Regions from separate parts of the Homo sapiens genome. Here region 1 is linked to region 2. A link means that fine-mapping ties the variant in region 2 to the expression of a gene that starts in the linked region. Tissue or cell type: whole blood. Region 2 holds a variant in brackets; the other region holds the start of a gene. All regions are shown on one strand. Distances are from middle to middle.

Region 1 (8,096 bases), 870 kb after region 2:
CGGAGCATAGCTTAAACCCAGGAGGTCAAGGTTGCAGTGAGCCAAGATTGCGCCATTGCACTCCGGCCTGGGCGACAGAGTGAGACCCTGTCTCAAAAAAAGAACAAGTTCTGGCTGGGCGCGGTGGCTCACGCTTGTAATCCCAGCACTTTGGATGGCCGAGATGGGAGGATCACGAGGTCAGGAGATCGAGACCATTCTGGCTAACACAGTGAAACCCCGTCTCTACTAAAAATACAAAAAAAATTAGCCGGGCGTGGTGGCGGGCGCCTGTAGTCCCAGCTACTCGGGAGGCTGACGCAGGAGAATGGCGTGAATCCGGAAGGCGGAGCTTGCAGTGAGGCGAGATCGCACCACTGCACTCCAGCCTGGGCAACAGAGCGAGACTCCGTCTCAAAAAAAAAAAAAGAACAAGTTCCCATACCACACTGAATAATAAATTTCAATGCATTTCACTTCTCATTCCTAGGGATTATTGTCTGATAATAAAATTAGAGTAAGTCTGAGGCAGAGAAAAAAACAAACTCAGATCAAAGTAACCAATTCTCCATACATAGCTCTGTTCACTGTATAGTATGTTTCACTTTTATAAGTTGTAGACTTTAGTGGTTATTTTAACACAGTTGCCTGGTTTTTAGAAGCACAGATATTAAGTGCACAGCTATTTCATATATTATTTATATATACATATAAAATATATACAGATATACATACATATACATAGATATTCTCTCAAAGTATTCCTACCAAAACAATCCTCTATGGAAAAAAAATTTTAAATCATATAATATAAAATCAAAACCTATGTTAGGAATTACAAAAGATCAGGTGAATTCGGAATTAAAAAACTACAGGAAGTTGGCTCAATTTCCCCACCACCAAAGTCCAGGATCTTTTGAGAAGAATGAGATGAGTCAGGAAAAAGTACTTCCTTTTTTTAAGATAAGAAGAAAGACTAACAAGATTTTTATGATTTTTTTCCCCTCTGCCATACTAATGAGGAATAATTTTCAAAATAAACCTAAAGCAACTGACCACAAGAGTAAAAAGTGAACAAGAAGGACAGCAATAAAATTATAGCATATCTTAGTATAAAGCTCAACATGAAGCTCTAGAAAACCACACTGCTCTGGATATGTTTTAGTGGTAGGGTCAGAATCTGTTTACATACCTTCTCGGTCAAAAAAGCCTTGGAGAGCCTTTTTGGGATCCTTTATATAAAAGGCCTCCCTTTCCTGCTGAAACTCTAAGACAATAGGGTTCTCTTCAGCATCATCCTCTACTGCATCTTCTCCTACAGGATATGGAAAAGAAAGAAAAGATAATCAGACATGAGAAGAGACTATTTGAATGATACCCACTATTCTCTCAGGCTGCATAAAGATATAGTTTAGGCTGGGCGCAGTGGCTCATGCCTGTAATCCCAGCACTTTGGGAGGCCAAGGCAGGTGGATCACAAGGTCAGGAGTTCAAGACCAGCTTGGCCAACATGGTGAAACCCCATCTCTACTAAAAATACAAAAAAAATTAGCTGGGCACAGTGGCGGGTGTCTGTAATCCCAGCTACTTGGGAGGCTGAGGCAGGAGAATTGCTTGAACCTGGGAGGAAGAAGTTGTAGTGAGCCAAGATCGCGCTACCTGCACTCCAACCCAAGCAACACAGTGAGACCGTCTCCCAAAAAAAAAAAAATATATATATATATATAGTTTATCTGTGATGAAAAATAATAAATACTTGCAGGGACAGGGGGTGGAACAACCACCACAAAACCACTAGTATGAGCATATTCAGGTTTTCTAAATTGTGTGACAAGTCAAAACTTGTTTTCATGGCACCTTAATTTTTTTTTCTCCATCATTATATTTTAAAAGTAAAATTACCTACCACATTGTGGAAAAAAAATTTGAGCTCCTCAGCCTGGCATTCTTGTTCTCTCACACTCATATCTAACTTTCGTTCCCAATATAATTTCCTAATACTTCTTATATCTGCCAAATAGACTGGTCTACTCACAACTTCCTTAAAATCATCAATTCCTACCCTGAATACCAATCCCAATACTCAGCTTCATAAGGCTTTTCCTTTCCTTCAAGTTCCAGCTCAAAATCCTTATGCTCATAAAGCTTCCCTGTGGAGTGCGATCGCTCACGCCTGTAATCTCTACACTTTGGGAGGCCGGGGGGCGGGGTGGGGGGGGGGGGTGGGGGGTGGATCACAAGGTCAGGAGTTCAAGACCAGCCTGGCCAATATGGTGAAACCCCATCTCTACTAAAATAAAAAAAATTAAGTTTCCCAAAGATCTAAGTCAGTGCTGTCCAACAGAAATATAATGACAGCTGTATGCGTCATCTTAAATTTTCTATTAGCCACATTAAAAAATTAAAAGGAAACAGGTAAAATTATTGTCATTTCAACATGTCATCAATATAAAAATATCATGAAAGAGATATTTTACATTCTTTTTTTCAGACTAAGTCTTTGAAATTCAGTGTGTATTTTGCATTTACAGCACACATCAATTGCAACTAGCCACACTGCAAGTGCTCAGTAACCACATGTGGCTAGTGGCTACCATATCAGACAACACAGGTCTAAGTCCCCAGTGACTGTTCTCTCTTCTCCAAACTTTCACTCTAGCATACTTATGGTTTCTAGCTTTTGTTTGGCACTTAGCACAAGTAATTTCATAATTTTTCCTATCTTCCCAACTATATATTAATGCCATCTTCTACCTTTTTATACTCCCATCTCCTGAATATCCATTTTCTAAAATATCTGGTGTTAAAGAAAGTTTATTATTTTGGCTAAGGGACCAGCTTTATCTGATTAGATATTCCACATTTCAGGATATCTTCACAAAGTACAAAAAATTCAAGAGAATATCCTATATTGAATAACATCCCATTTATTTGATTGAATAGAGTTCCATCCCCTCCAATGATAATCACATAGCACAAGGTCAGTACTTAATAAATATAAAATTTTAGAATTGTAAAAATAATAATTTTATGCTTAGGACAAGTTTTGAACAAGAGAGTGCATTAAAAATAAATTTTTAAAAAATCCAAAGTGCCTATAAGTCAATTTCTTTACAACAGTAAAGTCAGTGAATCTCTCTGGGTTTTGGTTACCTCATGTGCAAATTGTGTTTGCCCTATCTATCTCAAGGAGCCATGAAAAGCTGTATGATTTAAAAAAACATTTAAGGGTACCACTTGTAATGAACTTAAAATATTAACCTCCGGCAGCAATTTTAATTTCTTACCCATTCCCCAGGTGCAACCCATCTCATCATCTTGGCTACCAGCATTTATCTTCCTTTCAGAGGTATCCATTTCCTCTTCTTCATCTGAGTCTTCTCCTAGCATCTTCTTCTCCAACAATATTTGCTGCTGCTTGCGCAATTCCTTCAACTGTGTTACTGTTAACTCGGATTCTGCCTCTCGGTCTTCCTCTGGTCCCTGATGAACCAAGGAAAAAAAGGTTATTTATTTATTTAGAGACAGGGTCTTGCTCTGTCGCCTAGGCTGGACTGGAGTGCAGTGGCTGTAATACACCTCACTGCAGCCTTGACCTCCTGGGCTCAGGTGATCCTCCCACCTCAGCCTCCTGAGCAGCTGGGACCATGATGCCTGGCTAATTTTTTTTTTTTTTTTTAAGAGACAGGGTCTTGCCATGTTGCCCAGCCTCCTCTCAAACTCCTGGGCTAAAGCGATCCTCCCGCCTGGGCCTCCCAAAGTGTTGGGATTACAGGCGCGAGCCACCGCGCCTGGCCAAACAAGTTATTTTAGAGTTCGGGATTGTGAACATGACTTTCAGAAATATAGCAATGTGTACAGCCGTCTGAAGATGATAGGCCAGACTTGATTCCTTCACTTTCGTAATCGCTGAGTGGGAGATTCTTCTTCCTCATCCAAAGCTTAAGAAGCACAAGAACGCAGTCCAATGAACCCGAAATTTCAATTCTAGGTTTTTCTACCTACCTGCAGGATAAAGAGCCGGGTGCTGCCTCCAAAGCGAACAACATGCCCAACGTGGACTCGACAGTAGGTGCGAGGTGGGATGCGAGTTTTGTTGAGAAAAGTGCCATGGGTGCTTCCCAGATCGTAGAGGTAGAAGCCCGGCCCGTTGCTGTCGCATTCTCCGTCAGGGCCGGACGCCCTGTGCTGCAGCACTGCGTGGTACCGAGACACCGAAGGGTGCTCCAGGCACACGTCGCAGCCAGACAGCCTCCCGAAAAGGCAGTAACTCGTCCCTTTCAAGCTACGGGTGCCAAGGATAGTGCCGCCCTTCAGGGTCTCTAAGCTGTAGGGGGCTGTGGCAGGGCCACCCCATGGAGGCTCTTGGTAGGGGGGAGCCCGGGCTGGACCGCCAGGGGAAGAAACCGCTGTCGGGGGGCGCGACTGCTCCTCCTGTAGACTCCTAAAATCACCGCAGTCCGGCTGAGGAGGAGGGATGTCGGGCTCCCCAGAATTGGAGTCCTGCAACGCAGTGGGCCCTTCCTTCTGTACCTCCTCAGGGTTTGAAGAACTGCTGGCCGGGGCCTTACTCCGCGCCGCTGGGGACACCGGCAGAGCTGGCTTCTTGAAGTCCCCACTGAGGTCTTGCGACGCCAGGGTCTCTGACTGAGAGAGAATGTCAGCCATCCTCAACCGGTGCAACTTCGAAATCCGCTCCTTCGAAACCCACCCTTCGGTCTTTACGTTCCTGTCCACGTCCCACTCTCCCAAGCTCCCAGTGGCGTCTGTAGGCGGCGATGGTGAAGTTGCTCCTTCACGACCTGGAGCGTTGCGAAGTGGTGCTAACATGAGAAGGTCATAATATGAGAAAAACAAAACGGTTATCGGGATGCTGTGCAGAACGGGGACATATTTAGAGGTTACAACGGGATCGTAATGACTTCCTGTTGCATAGCTTGATTGAGAAGAAGCGCTTCCGGCGGTCTTAGATCACTAATCAACAAACCAGCTTTCGGGGTCTGACGCGATCCTTGCCTCAGGCCTCTCGAGGTCCAGACAGCCGCCCAGCCCGCTCTGCGACGCAGCAGTGAATAGTGTGGTACCTCCTTGTCTCGGTTCAGGTCCAGACCTCCCCGTCTTCCGGCTGCCCTGAACGTCAGGCGACCTCAGGACCCTGTGATTGGCGCCTGCGCCGGCGGACCGTGACCGAGGAAACCCCTGGAGGGACTTGGGCATTCCTTGGGCTCCGTGCCTGTTCTTCGTGCTCCTTTCGGTAAAGTAAGGGAAGAGGGCGACTTTTTTGTTATTTCGTTCATTCATTTATTTTTTTTCTGAAATTATTAAGGCAGAATAGTTAAGTGGTTAAGAGAGCAGACTCTGGAGACTGTCGATTTTTGACCTCGCCATTTGTGACATTGGGCAAGACACTAGGCCTCAGCCCTCACTCTGAAAAATGGGGATAAGATTATTAGCCTCATAGGGTTGTTGGAAGAATTGAATCAAACAATAAAGGCCAGCCAGACCGGTGGCTCATGCCTGTAATCCCAACATTTTGGGAGGCTGAGGCGGGAGGATTGCTTGAGCCCAGGAGTTCCAGAGGAGGCTGGGCAACATGGCGAGACCCTGTCTCGCCAAAAAAAAAAAAAAAAAAGAAAAAATCCAGGTTTGATGGTGCGCGCCTGTAGTCCCAGCTACTCCAGAGGCTGAGGTGGGAGGATTGCTTGGTCCCAGGAGGTTGAGGCTGCAGTGAACCATGACTGCACCACTGCACTCCAGCCTGGGCTACAGAGTGAAACCCTGTCTCAAAAAAGAAACAAACAAAAAAGGTGAAGTCTGGCATATAGTAAACATTCAACAAATGCCAGATATTTCTGTGTGCCTGGCCCTGTAACAAGACCACAGCCATAAGAAATAGACGGGCAGAAAAAATCTATTGCGATAAGTACTAATTAAAATCCAAGGATAACTGCTGTGACATAGACTTGCAAAGCACTGTGAGAATAGAGAAAGGGAGATGCACTGGTGAAGTGACGGACGGTGGGGACTTATGCTGTACTTAAAAATGAATATGAGTCTGCCAGGGATGTGCAAGGTTGGCAGAGCATTTCTGGCAGAGTTCACAGCTGAAAGTGTCAATTGTGGAAATGTACAGCATTCTCAAGAAACTGAGTAGTATAATGTTGTTAGAACAAAGGTAGTCATTTCACCCAGGAAGCTCCTCCTTTGTGCTTCCAGTACCCCAGGTCCATATACCTCTAGAACAGTACTTACCATGTTTCATATTGAAATATTCTGCTTCTGTTTCTCTTCCTCACTTCAGGGCAAGGATCTCACATTATCAGTCTTTGACCGACACAGAATGCCTGGCATTTGATAAATGTTTGTTGAACTTGAAGAGACATATGGACAATGAATCTGCAAAGGTGAGTTGAAACCAGATTGTGAATTTTGTTGAATGGTAAGCCAAGGAATTCTGACTTTTTCCAATAGGCAATGGGAAGCCATTTGATTTAAGTTTTAAAAAGAGTAAGTCTAGCAGCAGTGTAGAGAATAGATGACATACAAAGAGAGATTGGAGGAAGGGATACCAGTTAGAAGGCAGCAGAAATCTCTCACGTTCTATATGTCAAAAGTTGAAAGCATAATGCCATTTAGATTAATGGTTCATAAATTTTTCCACCAGGATCATGCCTAAGACACACAGAGTAAGAACCACTTCTTATTATCTTTAACCCTACTAGTTTTTCTCCTATTGATCCAGCACAGATGTATCAAGATACCTTATCATGCCTTGCTTATTGTTCAGGATTGAGCGTGATGGTAGTTCTGGTAATGAGTTAGTGAGTGAGATGGGAAATAGGGATACTAGAGCTCCAGATGCTGTTGTAGCTATTGGTCCACTAATGACCCAAATTCTACCCTGTGGTTCAGTGTAGTAGGAATTGTCATAGTATGACAATAACCAGCATCTAACAGTTACATTTCTCTTAATTTATTTAGGGAGAACACCTTTGGTCCTACAGTTTTGCTGACACTGACATTTTTCTAAGTGGTCACAAATAGCCTACTTTTTACATAAATAACTGGCTAGACCTCGTATTTTTCACTACAGAAGCCTATAATCTAAAGTTGCCAGGATTTAAACACATTACTTTTAGGTTATTGTCTACATTTATCCTGAGACCTCTTCTCTTCTTATTCCAAAATGTTGAGATACTGGGGAGAGATACCAATATCATCAAGCCAGACCAACAGAAGTTCCTTCGATTTGCTCCCACGGGAGTTCCGTCTGGTGGAAGTCCATGACCCACCCCTGCACCAACCCTCAGCCAACAAGCCGAAGCCCCCCACTATGCTGGACATCCCCTCAGAGCCATGTAGTCTCACCATCCATACGATTCAGTTGATTCAGCACAACCGACGTCTTCGCAACCTTATTGCCACAGCTCAGGCCCAGAATCAGCAGCAGACAGAAGGTGTAAAAACTGAAGAGAGTGAACCTCTTCCCTCGTGCCCTGGGTCACCTCCTCTCCCTGATGACCTCCTGCCTTTAGATTGTAAGAATCCCAATGCACCATTCCAGATCCGGCACAGTGACCCAGAGAGTGACTTTTATCGGTAAGGCAAGGCTTTGCTGTATCTTACTTTTCTCAAGTCATCTTCCCAACAACCCTGTTAAGCCTATAATAGCATTTCCATTTTCATGCGAGGAAACTGAGGATAAGAGTAATTGACTTGGCCAAGGTTTCTCCAGGTAATTAGTGGGATATCTAAGTTTTGAATGCCAGTCTTCAGAATTCAGGGTCTGTATTTTTTAATTTTTTGAGTGCTTACTATGTGCCAAGCACTTTACTAGGAGCAGGGTAATACACTGGTATGTAAAAAAGGCCATGGCCTCATAGTTCTTAGGATCTAGTCTTTCTATTTAATATAAAAAAAAATTATGGGTTTAGCTCGTTGTCTTCAAATTGGGATTCATGGACTTATTCTGGTATTTTTAGGAATCCGCAAGTCTACACAAGAATCTTTAAATTGTGTGTTTTCATTTTGATAACATAGTTCAAGAAATAATAATATAAGCTGAGCACAGTGGTTCATGCCTGTAACCCCAAGACTTTGGGAAGCCACGGTGGGTG
Region 2 (8,105 bases):
GAGAAGTCCTAACATTAGCAAACTCAACTAATTGTCCCTATCACTCCTGTTCTCCTTGGCGACCACGCCACCCCGGTGAGCCAGCAGCTTGGGATCCCAGGTTGGGCTCACCTGATAAGACCACTGCATCACCACCTTGGCCAGCCGGGTGGTCTCCTCTGAGCAATTACAGGGCTCTGGTGCAGGGCTGCAGGTTAAAACACACCAGGAATGAGAGAGGGGAGGCAGTGTGGGCAGGGAAGGGGATGCATCCAGCCCGCCTCTTATGGAAGAAGGGGCATAGGAGTTGCTTAAGGAGTAGGGATGAAGAAGCATAAGTCTTAGAGGACATAAATGTTGAGAAGAATAGAGGGTGGGTGGTCCCTTCTTGGGGGTTGGGTATGGGATGGAGGGAAGCTGTTCCTGGGGGGTGGGTATTGGATGGAGGGACGTTCTTCCTAGGGGGTCGATATGGGATGGAGGGAAGCTCTCCCTAGGGGGTGGGTATGGGTTAGGGGGTAGGTATGGGATGGAGGGAAGCTCTCCCTGGGGGGTAGGTATGGGATGGAGGGAAGCTCTCCCTGGGGGGTGGGTATGGGATGGAGGGAAGCTCTCCCTGGAGGGTGGCTATGGGATAGAGGGAAGCTTTTCCTGGGGGGTAGATATGGAATGGAGGAAAGCTCTTCCTAGGGGGTGACTATGGGATAGAGGGAAGCTCTTTCTCCCCCTTCATCTCTCAGTCCTCCTCCTCCCCGCTCACTGTTCTTCACACCAGACACCCACATCCCATTCCCCTTTCCCTCCCCTGTACCTTCTCTGTCTTGCATCCTCTTCAGAGCCCTCCTTCCCCAGCACCCCACTTCTCTCCTTTCCAGCACTCTCTTTTCTCCACCGCCCTTGCCCTGACTTTTTCCACATGAACTTCTTTTCTAGGTCCAGAGCCAGAATTCTTAGGATTTGGCTCCAAAAAGTTTAAAGTCTATGAACATTTTCAGAAATATATAGGAATCAAGTTCTGTGAAGTTAAACTACATTTAGGCTACGTTTTTCTATCCAATTTCCAGAAGTAACACTTCTTAGCTTATGGATGTTTTGCCAAGGCGAACTCTGAAATCACTCTGGCACTGAGGAGAGCCTCTGGCACAACATCAACCAGAATAAAAGAATAAAGTATTTTATTCTTTGACTCAGTCCCCAAAACAATGCTTGGCAGAGGGCCCACCCCACCCCGACTCTGCCACTCGCTCGGGTGTGAGCTCGCATGTGTTTCTCGGCCTCCTTTGGCCTCTGTTCTTTAGGGCTCCCTCATAGATTACGGCACATGAAGGGCCCCCACAGGCCGCACACGTGACAGCCGTGTCACAGATGCGTGTCTCATTCCACTTCCCCTTTTACCTGAGCCAAGTGCCGTGATACTGACGAGAGACCTCTGCAACCTCAGAGAGGTCCACCAGGTTTACAAATGCTCTGGGGACCTAGGAGGACACACAGAGAGGGAGGTGAGTATTTGCCAAGTCGCCATGGCTGCCGGGCTTTCTGGAACTCCTGCTTGGGCCCCGTTGGGGTGTGGTTGAGTGTGATGGGCCTCCCCTTGGTTAACTGGGCCTGATCCTTTGGGAGATGTTTGGTCAGGGTCAGTCTGCGCTGCCAGCCCTGCATCTGTGCCATCCAGAAACAGGACTCTCTGTCCCTCACGGTGGGCGGGGCGCCTCCCACCAGTGTCCACAGGGGAGGGAGACCACTGGGGCTATGGGCCTGCAGCCTCCTCCAGCAGAAAGCTGCCCTCCAGGGGAGCAAAGCGGAAGGCAGGGCCACAGCAACCCCCAGCTGATTCTCAGACCCTGCAGCAGCATCACGGTCACTGAGCAGAAAGGTCTTGAAGGTCCTCAGGCCCCCTCCATCTTATCCTCGCCCCAGTCTCAGGTAGAGAGAGGCCTTAGGGAAGAGCAGGGCCACCGAGGACTCAAGGAAGAGCCGAGTTTCTCTCAGAAGTTTCCTTTGCAGGAGTGGAGTGTGCTCTCCTGGCCCATGTTCTCATTTGAAAGGATGAGAAGATGGGGTGCTCTAAAGTTTCCCCTTTCCCGAGGGTCCCAGTCTCCCTCACAGGGGTCCATTTCCCCACCCCGGTGGAGGCCACATGAGGGTAAATGGGCCCCACTGCCCTTGGGGAAGCCCTAGGCCCGTGGCCTCACCTCCTGCTGCAGGTAGTCCAGCACCCCCATCAGCTCATCCACGCCGCCCGCCGCAAGCCCATTCTGTGAGAGGAGAACCGTGCTAAGTGAGGGTGCCTGCAGGAGGACCACGAGGTGAGGCCACCCAGACTCACAACAGGCCCATCCCTGCCAGGCAAGACCACAGGCAAAGGCACCATCTAGACCTGGCATTCCACAAAGGAGGACAGAATTCCCAGAGCTTCCTAGTTTTGTCTTCATTTTGTTCTTCTATTTTCTCCCCAACCCATCATCCACCTGGGAAAAACCAAACTCCCCACAGGTGAAAAGTTCCATCAGGAAAGGGCAAACTCAAAGTCAGAGCAAGATCAGAAATACCTGGTGTGATTCTGAAGCTCACACTGAGGGACAGGAGACTTACTCCCAAAGACTTGAGGAATCGCTTTTTCCCAAAGAAAATCAGGTCCAACAGGGAAATACAATTAACCCTGTATTTAAGGCCCCAGATGGGCCTCGGAACCTTCATGTGATCCTATTTTATTAGCTTTTCTCTTGCTGTGTTTGCCCTAAGATAAGCATTCCTAGAGAAAGAGTATGAGTGGGTCCTGCCACCTGAGTATTTAAAGACATCTCCCACGCACCCAACACACACACCACTCCCCTTCCTGCAGGTCATGAAAATCAACAAATGAAGGACCTCAAAAACGGACCCTGCTTTACCTTTTTTTTTTTTTTTTTTTTTTTGAGATGGAGTCTCGCTCTTTTGCCCAGGTTGGAGTGCAGTGGTGTGATCTCGGCTCAGTGCAACCTCCACCTCCTGAGTAGCTGGGATTACAGGCGCCCGCCACCATGCCCAGCTAATTTTTGTATTTTTAGTAGAGACAGGGTTTCACCATGTTGGCCAGGCTGGTCTCAAACTCCTGACCTCAAATGATCCACCTACCTCGGCCTCCCAAAGTGCTGGATTACAGGCTGGGTGCAGTGGCTCATGCCTGCTTTACCTTTTCAATGTGAAAAATAATAAAAATTACAAGACAAACTTCTAAGTTTGTCCCCTAACAAACAGCAGACTGGCTGTCCCCTAAGGCAACTTGGCTCAGACAGGAAGACAAGGAAGGCCAAGGAGCTGTTCTGTTTCCCGGAGGGGACACAGGCAGTGACTCTGGAGACAGCTGTCAATCACCTGGGCTGGCACCACACAGGAGGAAATGCAGT[G/A]TCCCTGTTTCTCTGCCCCTTCACCGGCTGTCCCTGCTTTGGTGTGAGGCTGGCTTCTGGGAGGCCGGGTCAGCCAGGTCTGTTACCGTAAAGCCTTCTGTCTAGTTTTCTCCTAAGTGAGCTGCTCCCTGACCGTGACATCAAACATCACCCTCTCTTTCCTGAAGAGCCCAGGGGAACTCTGTCTAGAGGCATCCTCGCTGCCCATCTGAACCATACCCACCGTCCCTGGAGAGGCGGGGGACCCTGTGTGGCTCTCTCTAGAGTGTGAATCTTGCTGTAGAAACCCCTGGTCAAGGTGTTTACTTGCAGCTGCAGAGGGAATTGGGGCCCACCCAGTCATTCCAGGCACTGCATGGTTGTCGCTCGGGACACCAACTGTCCCCATTTCTCAGTAAAAGACATTATGCTCCTATAAGATGTCCCTCCTCTATAAGGTCATACATAATAAACTCCTAGAACCCAAAGTCAGGAAAAAGCTGATTTCTTCAAATGAACTTGTACATTTCCATGTGTATCGTTTGCCCCCTGGTTTGGAAGAATGTCTATTATCAAACACGTGCCTGAGACCCAACTTAACTCTTTCTAATAAATTATTTTATTGGGATTTAAACCAAGGAATGGGATATTATTCAGTCAAAAACTAGAAACACGTTTAGGTTTCTTGAATCACACACCAGTGTACCCTCCAAAAGGCTGCCACCTGTAGCTAGAGACGTTTACAAGGGATAAATGTGTCTGTTTTCTTGTAATCAGCTCTTTTTTTCATTTTTTCTTCTGATTTTTAAAATCTTACTAATTAATAAAGCCAAATTTAACTAGAGAGCAGTAAGCAAGTGTCCAGATCCAAAAAGCATCCTCAGGTCACTGCTGTGAGCCAGCTCATCATTTACCTCCAAAGCACCTGCCTTCAGAGTCATTGTCACACCTAATGGATAGTTGCTGACTTGACTCTCTGACTTTGGTCATAAGAAACTCCTAAAGAACAACTGTGGACACAGGCCCTTGTTTATTTCCCATTAAATGAGCCCAAAGGTCTCCACAGGGGAAGAGAATTCAGGTCCTAAGTTGGGGCAGGACAGTAGCTCAACATTTCCTCTTAAGGGTAAAACATGTTTTTCTCGTGTGAACTTTTAGGAAACCCTTGACACCTGCTCTGTAAAGTCAGGTGGCAGCTGGTGCCCACCTTCTCAACATATGCCCACAGAGGGATCTCCAGTGGCCCCTGGGTCTCTACAGAGCATTTGTTTTGTTTTGTTTTGTTTTTAAAGACAGAGTCTCACTCTGTTGCTCAGGCTAGAGTGCAGTGGCATGATCTCAGCTCACTGCAGCCTCCACTTCCTGGGTTTAGTGATTCTGTTGCCTCAGCCTCCCGAGTAGCTAGGACTACAGGCATGCACCACCACACCCAGCTAATTTTTGTATTTTTGGTAGAGACAGGGTTTCACCACATTGGCCAGGCTGGTCTTGAACTCCTAACCTCAAGTGATCCACCTGCCTTGGCCTCCCAAAGTTCTGAGATTACAAGCATGAGCCACCATGCCCGGCCATCTACAGAGCACATTTTTACAACCACCGAGGGAGAGCTTATACCTGAGATGTGCTTTCAGAAAAATAAAAATGCCACGTAAGAACTTCTCAAACAAGGATGCTGAGCTACACCACAGGATTAGCTTAAACGGGGAGGTGTGGCCAGAGGTACCACTAGGAGGTGAGTGTGGGTCTGGGCTGTGAGAAGGGCAACACCAGCAGGCCTGGCCAGGAGGCCAAAGGAGCCAGGCCTAGGAGCCACAGGGCCTCTGGGGTAAGTGGAAGTGGAGGTGAGATTTATTCCAGGCATCAAAGCCTTGGTGGTTTTTGTGCAATAGGAAAAATCAAGATGGAAGAAGAAATAGAATAAAGAGGGAATTTGAGTGGAAGCTAGCTGGTGTTGCTGTAATTAGCTAAATTTATGGACATCATGTTATTGGTTTACAGCTGTTTAAAAATGAGGAGGCATGATTACTTTTGTCATATGTTTTGAACCAATTAAAAGTGTGAGCTTCTAAGTGTGAATAAACTCAATTCATATGTCATCAACATGACTAGATCTTGCAGGAATTTCTCATGTTGACAAAAATCATTAAGTCTGAGAACAAGTGTTGGGAAGGTTGTAGAGAATAGGTGCTCACTGCCACTGGTGGAAATATGAGAGTTCAGCCACTTTGGAGGGCAATTAGGAGGCAGAGCCTATTAAAACCCAAAATGTGCGCACCTAAAGACTGGTATAAGAATCTACTCCAGGCGCTTTTCTTGAGACTGTTTTTTTCTTTTCTTTTTTTTTTATTTTCTTTTGAGACAGAGTCTCTCTCTGTCACCCAGGCTGGAGTGCAGTAGTGCGATCTTGGCTCACTGCAACCTCTGTCTCCTGGGTTCAAGTGATTCTCCTGCCTCAGCCTCCCGAGTAGCTGGGACTACAGGTGCCTGCCACCAAGCCCGGCTAATTTTTGTATTTTTAGTACAGATGGGGTTTCACCATATTGGCCAGGCTGGTCTCAAACTCCTAACCTTGTGATCCACCTGCCTCGGCCTCCTAAAGTGCTGGGATTACAGGCGTGAGCCACCGCGCCCAGCTCTTGAGGCTGTTTTTATCTTGACCCACAGTGTGAGATGTGTTTCACGTCCCAATCCAGTACAAGTATCCATATAGAAATGATGCAAAAATCTCATGAACCAATACTTACCTTACTACATGCAATGAACTCGAGGATTTTAGAGTTTATTCTATTCTATTTTTTTTACAATGTTGGTTGCAATCCTTTAAATTGATTTTTTGACTCACTAATGTACTTCAGTCCACAATTTGAAAATCACTGTATCTAGGAAAACTCTTCCACATAGTCAAGTAAATGAGCAAGACTGTTCATTGTAGCATTGTTTATAATAGTGAAAAACTAGAAATACCTACATGGCCATCAGTATAGGAAAATGGTGAAATAAAATGTAGTAAATTTACACAGCAAAATACTCATGGAAGAGAAATAAACTCATTCCATATATGTCAACATGACTAGATCTCAACAATACTTGGTTAGTGAAAAAAACTGTTCAGTAGTACATACAATATAACACTATATTAAATCTCTCTCATACATACAAGCACACAAAATAAGGCTTGGATTTATAGATATGTAAGAGGTTTGCAAAGAAAAAGAGACAGAGGATTAGGGAGGTGGCCAAAAGGATACATATTTTAGCTTTAACTGATGTTTTAGTTTTTAGAAGGAAAATATTTGTGTATTGCTTGCATAACTAAAAATACAAATAACATGTAGTTGAATACATGTGCACAAGAATACAACATGTATTCAAGAATGTTTGAAGGCATAAATACATGAAAGCATGCAAGAATTTATGTAGGAATGTTTAAACACAAGATGAAGTATATGGAAAAATCATTGATGAGTCTAAGTATTCATAAATGCATTCATACATTTTAAAAAATCATATGCTATCATGAACAAACTGATCACAAATACAATAGCATATGTCTGCATGTAAGATGAGAAAATGAATTTATACATGAATATAACTTATGGATGAATGATTCTATTAGTGAATACATAGAAGAATGCAGCAATATCTAAATGCTTGAACACTTCAGTGCGTGACTGCATAAATGCATGAGTTAATGTCATGGATTAATGAGTACAGAGAGCAATGCACCAATGTCTAAATGCTTGAGCATGTCAATGCATGAATGCATACATTCATGAAGTAATGCATAATGACCAAAAAGGGGGGCTGTGGAGAGAACAAATGAGGCACGTAAATTTCACTCGGCACTGGAGAAAACAGAGGGTAAACTGGAACAATAAATCTTCATTATCTATATGCTAAAAACCCAGGAAGGCTACAGGAATATTGGCCAATGAGAGCTAGTCAGGAAGGTGGATTTCCATCAATGTTCTTCCAAGGCTTGACATCACTAAAGGAAGGGGAGTTCTGACGGTGAGCCTGGAGTCAGTGGGAGTGTGGCGCACTTGAAGGAAGGCAAGAGTATCTACTGTAGGAGAGGGGCACAGAAAAGAAACCACCACCTCCAGAAGCTCCACCATGCCTGTGCCCTGGCCTGGAGGGTGGCGAAGAGGACAAGCTGGTCCCACAAGTGGCAGGGACAGTGTGGCAGCAGCCAGTCTTCAGGATCCTGAAGAAGAGTCCAGGTGCCATTTATTTCACCATGGCTTAGATTTCTAAACCACCCCTTACACTTTCAACTGATCCTAATCTGAATGATCTTCAATAAAGACTTAAGTCATAGATATTCACCTACATAAATAATAAACGAGACCACACGCTTCATGTCCTGTTTCCAGAAAAGCCAAAGCACTTGGAAGATACAGTCTACTTCAATAAAACAGCAGCTTTCCCACCACAAATAGAATTCATGGGCCAAGGGGTGAGGATGGTATGCACCCTGCTTTATTTCCTAAATTCAGAACTTACATGAAATCAGAATTAAGACGCAAGATAGTTTTTAACCAACTAGGACGCTAATTTTCTCAGTTGCGGAATGACTGTTGACTCAGCTTATCTATGCCTCTATTTCCTTTTCCTGATATGAGGGATGGTAAGTAAAAAACACCTGTTCCTTGTGACAGTTATGAATGCATGTCATATGTACAACATTATGAATTATCTAATGTCACTGAACTGTACACTTAAAATGATTAAGATGGTCAACTTTATGTGTATTTTATC

What was found. PIP is the estimated chance that this variant, and not a neighbour inherited with it, causes the effect.
Region 1: it holds the start of SUPT7L, and the variant in region 2 is fine-mapped to the expression of SUPT7L in whole blood (TOPMed, PIP 0.92).

Annotation. Positions count from the first base shown.
Region 1 is chr2:27,660,466-27,668,561 of GRCh38, reverse strand. SUPT7L (SPT7 like, STAGA complex subunit gamma) reads left to right here and starts at 4,948. Exons shown (of 6, transcript NM_014860.3): 1 at 4,948-5,233; 2 at 6,281-6,383; 3 at 7,174-7,578. The coding sequence starts at 6,370. SLC4A1AP (solute carrier family 4 member 1 adaptor protein) reads right to left here and starts at 4,673. Exons shown (of 14, transcript NM_018158.3): 1 at 3,985-4,673; 2 at 3,267-3,462; 3 at 1,172-1,294. The coding sequence starts at 4,647.
Region 2 is chr2:28,532,448-28,540,552 of GRCh38, reverse strand. It overlaps PLB1 (phospholipase B1), which reads right to left. Exons shown (of 58, transcript NM_153021.5): 10 at 2,172-2,234; 11 at 1,375-1,454; 12 at 112-187. Among named protein-coding and RNA genes, the nearest start is that of PLB1, 40 kb to the right of the region's middle. RefSeq lists a silencer at 1,037-1,331. The variant G/A (reference allele first, on the strand shown) is at 3,366.